2 separate regions of the Homo sapiens genome follow, and region 2 is linked to region 1. A link means that fine-mapping ties the variant in region 1 to the expression of a gene that starts in the linked region. Tissue or cell type: whole blood. Region 1 holds a variant in brackets; the other region holds the start of a gene. All regions are shown on one strand. Distances are from middle to middle.

Evidence for each region. PIP is the estimated chance that this variant, and not a neighbour inherited with it, causes the effect.
Region 2: XKR3 starts here. The variant in region 1 is fine-mapped to the expression of XKR3 in whole blood (TOPMed, PIP above 0.99).

What each region holds. Positions count from the first base shown.
Region 1 is chr22:16,772,838-16,780,946 of GRCh38, forward strand. No RefSeq gene overlaps it. Among named protein-coding and RNA genes, the nearest start is that of LINC01665, 28 kb to the left of the region's middle. The variant C/T (reference allele first, on the strand shown) is at 3,471.
Region 2 is chr22:16,822,331-16,830,418 of GRCh38, forward strand. XKR3 (XK related 3) reads right to left here and starts at 3,081. Exons shown (of 4, transcript NM_001386955.1): 1 at 2,961-3,081. It also overlaps the pseudogene HSFY1P1.

The DNA of each region.
Region 1 (8,109 bases):
TTTTGAAGCCTTGGGACTAGAAGCCAAGCCAGGAACTTGCCACCGACTTCCCTATCAGAACCTGTAGATTTGGTTGAATTCCACTCCTCTCAAAGTCTTCAAATATGGTGAGGTTCCAGAGCTTGCCCAGAAGTGACCTTTCTTATCTTGTAGGCTAGGAACTCTGTAACCAATTACCAGGTTGGTTTTTCCATGAAGGCTTTATAAGTATTGCCCCCACGGTCAACTTTAGTTCTTAATGCTACCTGGTTATATCTGATTCTATGGAAATCATTCTTAAACATATTTGATATTTCAGACAAGACTTGGTTATAAAACCACTTTCCACTTATGTTCTATGCAAATGCATTTTTACTAAACTGCAGAAATTTCTCTATTGTCATAAAAATCTTTATAAAATCTTAAATGTCCAGTGAGTATATCACAGCTCAATTACTACATTAGGAAATCCAATAAGTATACAAATCAAGTGTATTCCCTTTTTTCGTGTTTTTTGTTTGTTTGTTTGTTTGTTTGTTTGTTTTTTCTGACAGAGTCACCCTCTGTCATCCAGGCTGGATTGCAGTGGTGTGAGCTCAGCTCACTGCAGCCTCTGCCACCTGGGATCAAAAAATTGTCCTGCCTCAACCACCTGTGTAGCTAGGATTACAGGTGTGCACCACATTTCCTGGCTGACTTTTGTATTTCTAGTAAGGATGGCATTTCAACATCTTGGCCATGCTGGTCTGGTCTCCTGACTTCAGATGATCCACCTGCCTTGGTTTCCCAAAGTGCAGGGATTACAGGCGTTAGCCACCATGCCTGGCCCGCAAATGTATTCTTGCAGTTAATAATAACAATAACTTGTAATCTGTGGCTGTGTGCAATAAACTATTTTAAACTAATCTCATTTACTAAACATTTTCATGAGTCATGTGAACTTGATTGTCTATTTCTAGGATTTTTAGGAGTATGTAATTCACAATAATGCTCATTTATCTCTTAGCCAATTTGGATAGCACCCTTTTAAGTGATATTAAAAATTAACTTGGTACTAACATCCAGAGGTAGAAATATATCACACACAGTTCATCTATATGCTAAAAATATAGATAAAGGCAAGCAGATTTTATAGCCCTGACAAAATTTACCCATGAATAAAGCAATAGAGTAATATAAAACTCACTGGCTTATATCCATTTTATATTTTATCTAAATTGTGCTTCTAGCAAATGAGACAAGATTACCGATTCTATAGGAGACCTAATACCTAGCTGGAATTACAGGTGTGCACCACTATGCCAAGCTAAATTTTTGTATTCTTAGCAGAGACAGGGTTTCAGCATGTTGTCCAGGCTGGTCTTGAACTCCCGACTGCAAGTGATCCACCCACCTCAACCTCCCAAAGTGCTGGGATTACAGGCGTGAGCCACCATACCTAGCCCTAATAACCTGTTTTAGAGCTCACTCTAAAAATCACATTTGATTTTTTTGTTGTTTGATCTGTTTTGCTGGTGAGAGTCTCTTGAATTTTTCACTTCAGCCAATGTGTTTCTTAGTTCCAGGATTTTTTAAATTATTTCATTTTTAAAAATTTCTCTCAGAAGTTTATTAGTTCCTTTTCTGTCATTTTAGAGATCTGAATTTCCTGAAAACCGCCATTTTGAATTCTTGATTAGAGAACTCACTGATAGCCATCACATTATTTAGCACTGGTCAATGGTTTAGTGCTTTGTCCATTTGGGAAGATTATGATTCCTTGTTCGGTATTATTTCTAGTGGTTATACATCTATATCTTTTTATTGAAGGACTAGTTATTCAGTTCATTCTTTTCTCTGTATTATTTTGTGTTTTACTGAATATATTTGCGTTGAGGTTTTTTTAGACACACCTATGGTGGGTTTTTGTTTGCTTGCTTTCAGCTACGTCAGTTCCTTTGTTTTGACAGTAGATGGTGCCTTAAGCCAAGGTTTGCCTCAGCTCTAGCAAGCTTAGGATTGCTGCCAGTCCCCTATCAGAGAGATCCTGAAGGGGCTATGCTAACAGTGAGGGAAGGCTGGCTATAAGTTTGTGCCTAGGGAAATTATGAAATATACCTCCTACCTCATGGTACTGCTGCACAGGCACTCTGGTTTGGCATCTCCTATGGCTAAGATATCAAGGCTGGAGGTGGTAGTCCTGCCTTTCTGCCTTGTCCCTGGTTGTCCTCAGGAATTCTTCTTCTTTCAGGCATTCACAAGGCTTCCTGTGGGTTAAGACAGGAACAGGTTTCCTGCCAGGAAATCAAAAGTGGCTTGTGTTGTCCACTTCAACTTTATTTAATCCAGTGTAGTAAGCATGAGACAGAGGATTTTTTTTTTTTTTTACACTTCGTTGCCAGCAGACTAGGGGAAGAGTGTCATGAATATAAAAGCCAAACTTTCTTATCATCTGCCTGGTTTCTTCACTTCTCTGTCACCCTAGGAGCTGCCTCATCCTCATATTTGAGCTCTGAGTTATTGCTGGTGATAACCTATGCAATGTATATCGGTTTTTGGTTTCCTGTATGTGTTCTTGGGGGGAGGGGGAGCTAGGGTTGGTGGGGAAACATGCCAGCTTCCTTTACTATGTCATTTTTTTGTAAAAGTACTCTTCTCTAGTTTGCACTTTTTCTACTTCCTTGTGTGTGAATTGATAATTTTACATTTCTTCTTTATGTGTCTATGTTTGCAACTATATATTTCTCAGTATTGATTTTGCTGCATCCCAGAAGTTTCAATATGCTTTAATTTTCCATTTATCTGCAAGGATTCTTTAATTTCTTGCAGATTCTTCAATTAGCCATAGGTTGTTGAAGAGTGTATTGTTTAGTTTCCAAATATTATACATTTTTCAGTTTTTAGAAAATGGGGCTCAGGCGGTCACAGTGGCTCGTGCGTGTAATCCCAGCACTTTGGGAGGCTGAGGGGGATGGATCACTTGAGGTCAGGAGTTCAAGACCAGACTGATCAATATGGTGAAACTCCATCTCTACTAAAATTATAAAAATTAGCCAGGTGTGGTGGTGGGCACCTGTAGTCTCAGCTACTTGGGAGGCTGAGGCAGTAGAATCACTTGAACATGGAAGGCAGAGGTTGCAGTGAGCTGACATTGTGCCACTGCAGTCCAGCCTGCGTGACAGAGCAAAACTCCGTCTCAAAAAAAAAGAGGGGGGGCAGTCTCTAGTTTTATTCCACTGTGGTTGGAAAAAGCATTATGTGTGATTTCAATAGTTTTAAATATGAGACTTGCTTTGTGGCCTACCGTGAAGACTATTCTGGACCTATAAACCCTTTAGAAGAATATTTAATCCACTTGTGGAGTGGAGTGTTTTGTATATGTCTAATAGCCTCATTTGGTTTATAATGCTGTTTAAGACATTTGTTTTCTTATTGAACCTCTGTTTGGTTGTTTCATCCACTGTTGAAAGTGGGATGTTGAAATCACCAACTATTATTGCAGAACTGTCCAC[C/T]TCTTCAAATCTGTTTGTCTTTGTTTCATATATCCTGCGGATCTTTTATTAGGTAAATATGTAAGGATAATATCTTTTTGATGAATTAAACATTCTTGATATTTGCATAGTACCTCTAGCTCTATTTTGGTTACTGTTTGAATTAATTTTCCCGTCCCTTTTAAAACATGTAAAAAGTCATTCTGTCAATCTTTGACTTTTAACTGGAGTTTAATTTATCTGCATTTAAGGTAATTACTGATAAGAAAGATTTTGCTATTTTTGTCCTTGTTTTCTACAAATTTGTTGTTGTTGTGGTTGTTATTCAATTCCTCCAAAAACTGCTCATTTTTACATTTGATTGTTTTTCTAGGGTACCATTTTGACTGTCTCATTTCTCTTTAGTATATTTTAACAGTTATTTTCTTAGTGGTCATTAAGGGTATTATAACTAATATCTTAAATTTATAATAATATAGTGTGAATTATAACAACTGTTTACATTATATAAAAATATTTTCCCATACTGCTGTCCCTCCATTCCTACGTTTTGTCAAAAATTGCTTCTTATTCAATATGTGCTAACAGCACAGATATATAATTCTTGTCTTATTATATGTCATTTCTTTATTTTATTATTTTATTTTACTTTACTGAGACATGGTTTCAATCATGCAGGCTAAACATGGTTCACTACAGCCTTGAGCTCCTGGCCTCAAGGGATCCTCCCACTTCCACCTCCCTTGTAGCTGGGGCTAGAGGTTCATGCCACCATACCTGGCTAATTTTATTTTCTGTAGAGACAGGGTCACACTTTGTTGCCCCGGCTGGTCTCAAACTCCTGGGCTCAACCAAACCTCCCACCTTGGTTGGGATTACAGATGTGAAATACTGTGCCTTACCACTTTTTAAATCTAGTAGAAAAATAAAGTCACAGAAACCCCCAAATACAATGGTATTGGCTTTTCTATTTCCTGGTGTAATTACTTTATTGATGTTATTTATTTATTTATTTGCACATGGGTTACTGTGTATTGTTCTTACATTCCTTACTTCATCATATTTTGTAAGGCCAATCTAATAGTGATGTACTCTCTTTAATTGTTTGCTTGGAAATGCCTTACTCATAAATTGAGAAATTGAGTTCGGTTTTGCCAGATATTGAGTTTATGACTGATTTATGTTTTCTTTCAGCCCTCTAAATATGTCACCCCAGTGACTTCTTTCCTCCATAAATTTTAATGAGAAATTGGCTGTTAATGTCATTGAGGATAACTTGCATGTGATCAGTTACTTCTGTCTTGCTTCTTTTAAAGTTCTCTATTAATTTATCTTTTGTCAATTTCAGTGTATGTGTTCCAGTGTAGATATCTTTGAGGTTATTCTTCTAGGAGTATTTTTTTTCTTCTGGGATTCTTGAATAAGTAAATTTGTATCTATCAGCACATTTGGGAAGTTTCAGCCATTGCTTCTTCAAATTATTTTTTTTATCTCTGTGTCTCCTTTTCCTGTGGGGCTCCCATTATGAATATGTTGATATACTTGATGTTGTTCCATGGCTACCTTAGTTTTATTCATTTTTCTTGTTTTTCTCTTCTTGTACCTTCCTTAGACTGAATAGCAAACAATCCGTCTTCAAGTTCCTTGATTATCCTTCCTGCATGCTCATGCATACTCTTCAGTCTTTCTAGTTACAGGGTATGAATTTCATTTTTAAAAATAATTTGTAGGTCTTTATTGGTATTTTCCATTTTTGAAACACTGTTGTCCTGGCTTCTCTTAGGTATTTGAGAACATTGAAGTCAAGTAAATTAAAATATTTGCCTAGTAAATACCACGGCTGGGATTCCTGAAGTACAGTTTCTTTTCATTATTTTCCCGTTGAGGGTGCCATTTTTTTGTCCTTTTGAATGCCTTGTATTTTATTGTTGAACAGTGAACACTTTAGAAATCATTCAGCATATCCAGAAAACATATTCCTGCCCTCCACAATTGCTTAGTTTTGGGGGTCATTTACTTGTTTTGCAACCCTCTAAAGCTATTTTTGTATCCTGTATTCTTTGTCATGTATGGACACTTAACCTGTGTTCTGTCACTCTGTTTGCCATCTACAGTTTTTGACAAATTTTTAGAAAACACTCCAAGCAAAGAAAAGGAAAAGGAGAAAAGAAAGAAAAGAAAAACTGCCCAGACTTTGCAGATTGACTCTTTGAGGAACTCCAGTGTTTAGCCCAAAGTCAGGGAAAAGTGAAAGCTTCAGGAGCTTCTCTGTGCATACATCCAATACTGGAAATATTTATAACCTTCTAAATATACCAGTAGGAGGCTGGGCATGGTGGTTCATACCTGTAATGCCAGCACTTTGGGAGGCTGAGGTGAACAAGTCACTTGAGCCCAGAAGTTTGAGACCAGTTTTGACAACATGGCAAGATCTCATCTCTATAAAACATACGAAAATAAGCTGTGTGTGGTGACCCATGCCTGCACTGTGGGAGGCTGAGGTGGGAGGATCACAGAATCCAGAAAGGTTGAGCTGCTGAGGAAACTGAGGTGGGAAAATCACTTGAGCCCAGGGAGGTCGAGGCTGTAGTGAGCCAGGATCATGCCTCATGACTCCAACCTGGGCCACAGGGCAAGGCTCTGTCTCTATTTAAAAACAAAACCAAAGCAAACAACAACAACAAACTGTGAGAGTTTTTCAAAGCTGATTTTCCACAGCAATTTCCTTCCCCAACCTCTTCCTTCCAGGCATTTTCTTTGTGTACTTCTTGACCTGAGTGCCAGGTGGCTCTCACTAGTATATTTCCCTTCCACAAAGGCCTCCTGGGAGTTGACTTCTTACCCCAAGAAAGCTATGAGGTGGGCTAAAGAATCTGAGCTAATAATCTTCAAGATAACTTCAGAGAGTTCAAATCATACAATCATTATTATTATTACTATTATTATTATTATTTGAGACAGAGTCTCAATCTGTTGCACAGGCTGGAGTGCAGTGACAGAATCTCGGTTCAGTGCAAACTCCACCTCCCGGGTTCAAGTGATTCTCCTGCCTCAGCCTCCCCAGTAGCTGGGACTACAGGCTTCTGCTGCCAGGCCCAGCTAATTATTGTAGTTTTAGTAGAGACAGGGTTTCGCCATGACAACCACAATTCTTTGAGATAAGCTCCATATTTTTCCCACATGCATCAAAAGCTGCACCTAGAACTTCGTCTTCTTCACTGTTGCCATGAAGTCATGGAGTGGGTGATAATGGACAGTTAAAATACCACATACTGGCTGGGCATAATGGCTCACGCCTGTCATCCCAGCACTTTGGGAGGCCGAGGCAGGTGTATCACCAGGTAAGGAGGCTGAGACTATCCTGGCTAACACGGTGAAACCCTGTCTCTACTAAAAATACAAAAAATTAGCCAGGCATTGTGGCACGCACCTGTAGTCCAGCTATTCGGGAGGCTGAGGCAGGAGAATCGCTTGAACCCAGGAGGCAGAGGTTGTAGTAAGCCGAGATTGCACCACTACACTCCAGCCTGGGTGACAGAGGGAGAGTCTGTCTCAGAAAAAAAGAAAGAAGACGACGAAGAAAAAAAAAGACACACACTGTCTTGCCTAAACTCAGGGGTAAGGTCTTCTTTAACCACTCCCGTGAGTTATGTTATTAGACTCCAGAGCTCCAAGAGTCAAGTCTGAGGTTTTTTTCTCTGCCTAATACCCCTTAACTTTTAACCCAATTAAATGTAATGACAGCATAAAATATAAACTTGCTTAAATTTACCTTGCTTTTTAATGTTTAGGCGGCGTTCAGCCTGTTTAGTAAGATTTCATACAAGGCTGCGTCCATCATTATTATGAGAGCCATTCTCTCTTTCATTTAATAACGAATAGTTGGCTGGTCACAGTGGCTCATGCTTGTAATCCCAGCCCTTTGGGAGGCTGAGGCGGGTGGATCACAAGGATGAAGACCATCCTTGCTAATACAGTGAAGCCTTGTCTCTACCAAAAATACAAAAAATCAGCCGAGCGTGGTGGCGCATGCCTGCAATCCCAGCTACTCAGGAGGCTGAGGCAGGAGAATGGCTTGAACCGGGGAAGCTGGGAGGCAGAGGTTGCGGTGAGCCTAGATCACACCATTGCATTATAGCCTGGACATCAAGAGTGAAACTCCTTCTCAAAAAAAAAAAAAAAGAAAAGAAAAGAAAAGAAAAAATAATGATACAGGGAGATAATAAATAAGTAAATAAGTGTTTTACGAAGCTGTAAAATCTAAAGTAAAGGTAAAGATGGTCATAGATAGGAGCAGGAAAAATTACACAAATCCACATGAGCTTAATTTTTGGTGGTGATTTCTCATCAGAAAAAAAAACATAAAAGAAAGTATGAATAAGAAAATTGTCCACATTGCTTTGGTAGAAAAAAGTAGGAGGAAAAACAAAAACAACAAAATAATGAGAATTATACAATATTAAGCTTTAGTGTTCTTCATTTATCATGGTGATTGTTTCCCCAAGAAATAACAGAAGCAAAATAGTCAAAATAGAAGGACACATAGGCATATATTACTGTCTACGTATATCAAGCCAAGTTTAATTTTAATTCATTCTTTCAGAAATTTTATTTTAAATTAACAATTGTAAAGATTTATGGGACACAAAGTGATTTTATA
Region 2 (8,088 bases), 49 kb after region 1:
AGAACTAAAGTAACAGTAACAGCTAAGAAACCAACAAAGGCCATAATAGGAAATTAAAAAAATAAATAAATAATAGAAAAGAAGACAGATAAGAGAAAATGGAACAAGTAACACATGGAGAAAACAGAAAGCTACATCAATCAGCACATTAACTGTAAATGGCTTATATACCACAACTAAAAGGTAAAGCCTATAAGAGAAATAAAAATAGTAAAATCCAGTTATATGTTGTCTCCTGGAAACCCATACTTGACATAAAGACACAATTACTACGGAAGAGATGGAATAAAGCTGTGCACTACTAACCCTAGTGATAAGACTGCTGGAATGGCTATATTAATATCAGACAAAGTAGAGCAAAAAAAATGGAAAATATCAACTGATGCTCAAGTTGTTCTGGTTAGCAGTACAAACTCTGGAACCAGACTTTCTGAGTTACAATACTGTCACTTCTATTTTTTTCTTTTAACTATAAAATAAATGTCCACATTGCTAACAAGCATATTAACTAGCTTATTATGCTTGCTTCCTTTGCTTTTGGTTGTGGTGGGTATTTATTTGTTTATTTTTTAAGACATGATCTGCCCTTGTCACCCAGGTTGGAGTGCAGTGGCGTGACCTAGACTCACTGAAGCCTCAACCTCCAGGACTCAAATGATCCTCCTGCCTTAGCCTCCCAAGTAGCTGGGACCACAGGTGCATGCCACCATGTACACTAATTTTTGTGTTTTTTGAGGAGATGGGGTTTGACCATCTTCCTGGTCTCAAACTCATGAGCTAAAGTGATCCACCTGCCTCAGCCTTCCAGTGTTGGGATTACAAGCATGAGCTACCACACTGCCAGAATCCTGTCATTTCCTTGAATTGCAAAATTAAAACCTCATAAGCTACAGTTTCCACATCTGTACAATGATAACATCATTAGAATCTTCCTGGGGAGATAGCAGTGTAGAGAAAATAATACATCGGCAGCAGGAAGAAGAGTTCGTGGTACACAGTGAAGTTTGGAAAGGTGTTCCTATTGACATCATTATAATCATGACCACCATCATCATTTCTTAGAAACACAGAATTGACAGGACTCACTGATTAAGAGTATTTGACAGTGAAATATGAGAGAAGAGATTGCCTTGGTCAATTCTTGAGTATCCATCTGGTAGAGCTTGGAAAAGTGGTGGAAGCAGAATTTTTGGGAAAAACATTTAAAATAAACTTAAACACCTTACTTTTGATCTGCGTGATGTACAGAACTGGTGATGAACAGGGCAACCTTGTCACTTTAAAATATATCTGATTGCCAATTTGCAGCATCACAAGACTAGTAAACATTTACTGTGAAACATTCAGAAAATACAAATTACCAAAAGAATAGAGTTTACCTATTGCTTAGTTTTCTCCAGCAATGGAGAGATCAATAATAATAAATCTGACACCAATTCAAAATATGAAACTTTAGGGTACTCAAGTACTAAAAGGTTTTTTTTTTTTAATGTAAACAAACTCACAGGTAACAGTGTCCAAAGTAGAACATTAGAAATGAGAGATTCTTGATGTAACAACAGGTCCAGGTGATGATAATTCAAGGCTGCTGAAACAAGTGAATGAAATCTTGAAGGGATCTTAATGATGAGAACTAATTCTTGCTTGTTGGAGTGATGAGACAAATGGTCCAAAAATTAAAAAACAAAACAAAACAACAACAACAACAAAATAATTTGTTGCTTGCAAATAGGCCCTAGAAGCAATATGAAACAGTCTTCAAATGAATAGATGAGAAAAATCGCATCTGACCTAATTAATTCAATGTCACAAAAAGAGAGACAATGTGTTATTTAAAGGGATGAGACAGAAAAAACACTCTTGTAAATAAAGAGAGAAGAGTACAATGAAGTACCCATTTCCACCTACGAGGAACGGGCATGTAAGAAAATACGGGAATCATGTGCAGATGATATAATTACTTATCTAGAGGCACCATAAAAATGTTTTTCCCCAAATAATGTCCATTAGGGATAAAATTTTAAGAAAGAAAGGATGTTACTTTTAAAGACAATTGTTAAATACCTAGTAAATAGAGTAAGTGAGTAAGAAAAGCAGAAAGAAAATAAGTTGCAGCTACCAGATACCCACAAAAAGAAAGAAAAGGGAAAAAGAAGGAATGGAGGGAGAGAGCACAAATGGAAAGAAAAAGGGTGGGAAGGAGGAGGGAGAGTAGAGAGAGAAATTACAGAAGTAGGCGAGGGGTATAAAGGAAAGCATGGAAAGACAACTGCAGAGACATCAGAGTTTCTGGGCCTCAGGATAGGGGAAAAATACATCCAACATTATAAGAAATATATCCCACTCTCTCCCCAGCAATCCATACATCGAATATGATATTAATGCAGATTGCACCTTTCTGGCTGCCCCAACCACTTCCTTCTCCTTTGGACTCACAGAAGGACCTCTATAATTTATTTCTGGAAAACACTTATGAAAATATGCACATATGAAAAGGGCCACAGAGTTTAGAAATGGGTCTTCCAGAGTCTAAAATTCAAGGTAGAAAGTGAAAGTGAAGTCACTGAACAATGGAATTTAGGCATGTGTTTGTGATTAAGTGAACTTGTTTCTTGTACTCACATAGCCAGTGCATCACTGCATCTGAATAACAAAAAATATGGTAGATTTCTGCCCCTTTGAGATTTCACTTAAATACGAAGCACTTTCTCCTTCTGATGTTTAAAAACATGCTGAAATTTGTAATATATTAGTAACAACCACTGTCCCACCCAAATGCTAAGCAGCTGCTTCTCTTCTCTGAAAATCAGAATCAAGAGAGGGAGTTTCTAGGCTCAAGACTCGGGAAAAGCCACCCCTGATATCCAGAGATTTATGTTAAGATCCCCAGCTGAGACAGGCAGAGGTCAAGGTAGGCTGAAGAAGCTGATCTGAGATGGTCGAGGGCTGCTCCTACTTACCTTGCCTATTTGCCACCCTCACAGTTTTGAAACTCGTTCAAAAAGTAAATGCTTTTGTTCACCTCTTTAACAGCACCATTTCTGGTCTCGTTTTCAACACTACGTCCTTTGCTTTGCAGGTAAAATTGCTTATTTTCTTGCCTTTTTATGACTAAAGTAGGCTTGCAGTTTGGAGTCAGGTGACTGCACTAGCTGAGTCATCTTCCCTTGAAAACACCAAGGCATTCTTCCTCCCTACAGAGTCACACATCTTAGTTCCCCAAAACGCTCAGCCACAATTTGACTTCGATTGTCCTACATTTAAGGTGATATTTTTCTGATTCTCCCATTAACTCCCTCTTCTCTTCGCACCCATGGCCCATCTTTTGCTGCTGTCTAGTAGCCATTCATCCCCTCCCATCACAAAAGAAGTCTGTACTTCCTTCAGACAGAGCAACAAGAAAATTCCCCAGAAAGCAAACAATTAAACAAATTTTAATTTTGCCTTTTTTAAATGAAAATTCTGTCAAAATTGATGAACCACATCTGGTAGGAGCACCTGTTTTATTTTCACAAAGAGTTTTCTGATCTGGACATTTTTGTTACTTACTGCTAATATGGAAAATTTTGAACTAAACAAAATACACCCCCAAAACTTAAACTATGTTAAACCAAGACAAGCTTCTAACAATGACACCTCTTTCCAGTATGAGAGAACTGCCTCCTACAGTATAAGAAATATCAAAATCATTATTTTTTTATTCCACACATATTCAACACTTAAAGCCAAGGCATTAGAATTTTAATATACCACCTCTCAAGCATGAACATATAAAAATTCTTACTGTAAATGGGGCATGATTATTTTTCAAAGAGAAGAAATATTTTATTCAATTCTAAGATTAATTCACAAATTTGACTCCTGTTTTATAATGATAACTTTACGTTGCAGGACACAGAGATTATTCCTTAAGAAATATTTTTTAAATAGATATTTGGCTCTTGGAACCAAATAATAAAATTTTCTGCTTAGACATACATACAAATTTACTTTACTTAAAACACTTTCTTGTTATTATTACATTTTTAAATCTCCCACTCTTTGGGATCTCCTTATAAGTAGGTCACTTGCTTTTAAAATCTTACATAATTAACATGTCAGATATTTACAGACATACCAAATGAAAGTATTATTTATTCTATGATATGAATAAAAAATGTTTTGAATAGATACATACATGAATAACTTTTTATTCTGAAATCTAATCAGTTTTATTCATATTTGATTTTATTTTAATTTTTTAAGGTATGTTTCACATAATACAAAATTACATTATTCAAAATTATATTATTAAAACATTTCTATCATCAAACAGGAAACCCCATTATCTACTTAACAGTTCTTTCTATTCCCCAGCCCCTGACAACCATTAACCTACCTTTTGTCTATATGGCCATGTCTTTTTACCATATATGTTTTACACTGCATCAGTTTTCAATCCAACATGCCAAGCTGAGAGAGTTTTTAAAATATTTATTTTTATTTTTTTGCACCGTCCAATTACCAGGCCCTATGCTCCTCGCACCAATCTAGTAAGACTGTGTGTGTCAAGGAGAAAATTATGTTTATTTCAGGGATTGAGGATATTAATTAATTTATTTATTTATTTATTTATTTATTTATTTATTATTTTCTTAAGACAGAGTCTTGCTCTGTTGCCCAGGCTGGAGTGCAGTGGCACAATCTCAGCTCACTGCAGCTTCCGCCTCCTGGGTTCAAACGATTCTTCTGCCTCAGCCTCCCGAGACCTGGGACTACAGGCACATGGACCACACCTGGCTAATTTTTGTATTTTTAGTAGAGACAGGGTGTCACCATGGTGGTCAGGCTGGTCTCGAACTCATGACCTCATGATCCGCCTGTCCCGGCCTCCCAAAGCGCTGGGATTGCAGGCATGAGCCACCATGCCTGGCCCTCCTTATTAATTTAAAAGATTCTGCAGGCATGAAACTTTTGCAGAATAAACTGTGTAAGTAATCATTCTATATTTTATTTTTACCAGATACATTTCTGAGACTGGAAAGTAAACAGTCTTGGCCAAATTTTTATGTTTGTTGCTAGGTGACCAAAGTCCTCTTGTGATGCCATTGCTACTCAGGTTGGAAACCACTGTGGTGATCTCAATTACTTTACCTGAGTAGACTACTGAAGCAGCATTTGAAGCTGCAGTCTTGAAACACATGCAGGCTGGAAAAGTCGCTAAAGAATTACTTATTTGAGATGGCACATGTTTCTGCAGAAACTCAAGATGTTTCTCCTAAAGATGAATCAACTGGTTCAAAAGCCTCCTCTGGGTCTCCATTGTGTGAACACATAATCCCTGGGGATTCAGACTTAAGGTCAATGACTGAATCAATGATTTTCAGGTTTTGCCACAAGGATCCTTGATAAAAAGGCCACATTATACTTTATGTCTCTGAGCCAGATAAAGATAATGATTTTCCTTCTCTGACCTTTCCCAGTAAACTTTGGAAAATAGCTGAAAGTGACCAATTCAAGTCTAATTCATAGGATAAGAATGAAACTTGCATAGTGACTAATGAAGAACTCTTCAAGAAAGAAAATTTGGAAATAAAGGCTCCTTACAGAATATTTCAAACTGACAGTATGAAAATCTTAATTTGACAGCTCAACCTTTATGGATTTAGTAAAATTCAACAGAATTTTCACAGATCTGCTTTTCTAGCCAACTTTCTGGCAGAAGAAAAAGAAATTTCTGTTTTAAGCAAGGTATTCAAAATATTTCAGTTACCACTTTGAGTATATATGTAATTTCATTTTATATATCAGTAACTATGTTAATACATGCAGTAAGATCAGATTTTAAAAATTATATCAAATATTAAGGTAAAAATTACTTAATTTTTTTGAAATTATTGAGTGCAGGTTGAGCATTAAACTTTCAGGTTTTAAGAAATGTTGCTAACAACATTCAGTCTTACCAGTGAACTCCAAATAAAGATACCAAAGCCACTTAGTGAAATGTTACTATTAAATGTATAACATGTTTTCACCAGAGGGCTTCAAAACTTGAGTGTTTTTTTTTCTCAACAAGCATGTTCTTAAAAATAGTAAACAATGTTCATTCATTATTTGATGATATTAACTTTGTGTGATAAAACAGAAATCTGAGATTGTATGGGTTATGTTTGTTATTGTTACTTGCCTCTTGGTTTAAAATGGCACTGAATTACCTTCTCCTTGGTTTTAGTTAAAGTTGTATTATCATCCGAATTTCAAACGTGGCTGTCCCCAACTTTTAATAAGAACGAAAAGAAGAATTAAGATTAAAAACACTTCTCTTGTATCTACTTCACTGAATATTTCAAGAAACACTTTAGAGCAGGGGCTAACACAGATAAACATAATTCTGTCTTAGCTGCTGAAACTAGTGAAGAAAGTTCATTTTCAACATCTACAAATTTAAATATGACTCTAACAAGGAAATCTTCTGTCAGCCAGGGCATTGCTGGTTCACCTGACCCAATTAGAAGTGGTTTCCCTCCTCTTCCATTTCAACCTCAGTTGGACAATCAGAACAAATTACAACAAATCAACATGCTATTTTAAATCAATTGACAAATATTCATATGCACTCTCATAGCACCGACATGTAAGCAAATGGCCACGTTGTGAATTTTGTTACAACCACAGCTTCTCAATACTACATCATATCTCCCTCCTTTGGGGCTGATAGTGAAACCACCTACTTTTTCCCACCAGATATCCTGAGGTATTAGCCAATGAGGCTCCTCATTCTAACCTGCTACCAGCAGGCAACCTGTGGTTGTAAATGACTGCGACAGCTGATACATCAGTTGCCTTTCGTTACAGGCCAGCTCTTCAACCATCTTTACTGGAAAAATATCACCCTAGTTACAACTGATCTTCCACCAAAAGAGTACCAGATTATGCATGACAACAGAGACTGAAATTTATGTTGACAAGAACATTAAAAATTCCTGCAATAATCTTACTGAACAATAAAATTACATGTTGACCTTTATGGTTGCTTTTCCTTTATTTCTAAAAATACAGTTAGGAGTAAAATGGGGCTTTGTTTTAGTGGCAGGCTACTGTACCGCATTTAAAAAAAAATATGTGCTTTTTTATCATTTGATGGGAAATTTGACATGGCCCTTTGTAAGCTAGTTTATTTAATTATCTAAAGAGGAAGAAATAATAGAGTGTTTTAGTCCATTTGCTGCTGCGACAACACAATACCACTGACTGGGTAATTTGTAAGGTGACTTATTTTGCTCATTATTCTGAAGGCTGGAAAGTCCAAGGGGCTGCATCTGGTGAGATCTTCTTTCTATGTTGCAACATGGCAGGAGGCCATCCTACGGTAAAGGACATGTGATAAACAGAAAATCAGGGCCAAACTCATCCTTGGTTCCAAAGCCCACTCACACAATAACTAGCCTGTTCGCCAGATAATGCTATCAATCCCGCCATGAGGGTGCACACTCACGATTTTATGGTTTCTAAGTCCACAGTCAACGTTGGCTAATTCACATACATATGTTTATATATCAAAACCATGGCAGCAGGCAAGGGAAAAAGAAGGAATTGGAGTTAGAAAAGAGTAATAACTGACTTCTCAAGTAGTCTGGCATAAATCAAATGAGGGCCTAAATTACAATGGCACAAAAAGAATAGATATGCACACACACACGCACACACAGAAAATCTAGAGAAACATTAACACACACTATATACTTCAGTATTTTCTCACTTTTTCTCAGTTATTTTAAACTTGGATTTTAGTTGGCAAAGATTTTCTTCATTACAATTCATACCTAGCGAGCTCAGTAACCATGATCACAATTATTTGTGTCCTCACTTGCGCAATAAACTTCACATATTTTACTCATGGATTGTATCACTGTAGGCACATGGTAGAATTTTATAGCTGGCATTATCAATAGACCTTTTTGATCTTCCATCAAAGCTTGTGGCTTTAATTACTTCCTGTAAGAGTCCACCTTTCATGTTTTCTAATGCACATTTTCCTTCTTTTCTTTTGAGACAGAGTCTTGCTGTGTTGCCCAGGTTGGAGTGCAGTGGCATAATCTCAGCTCACTG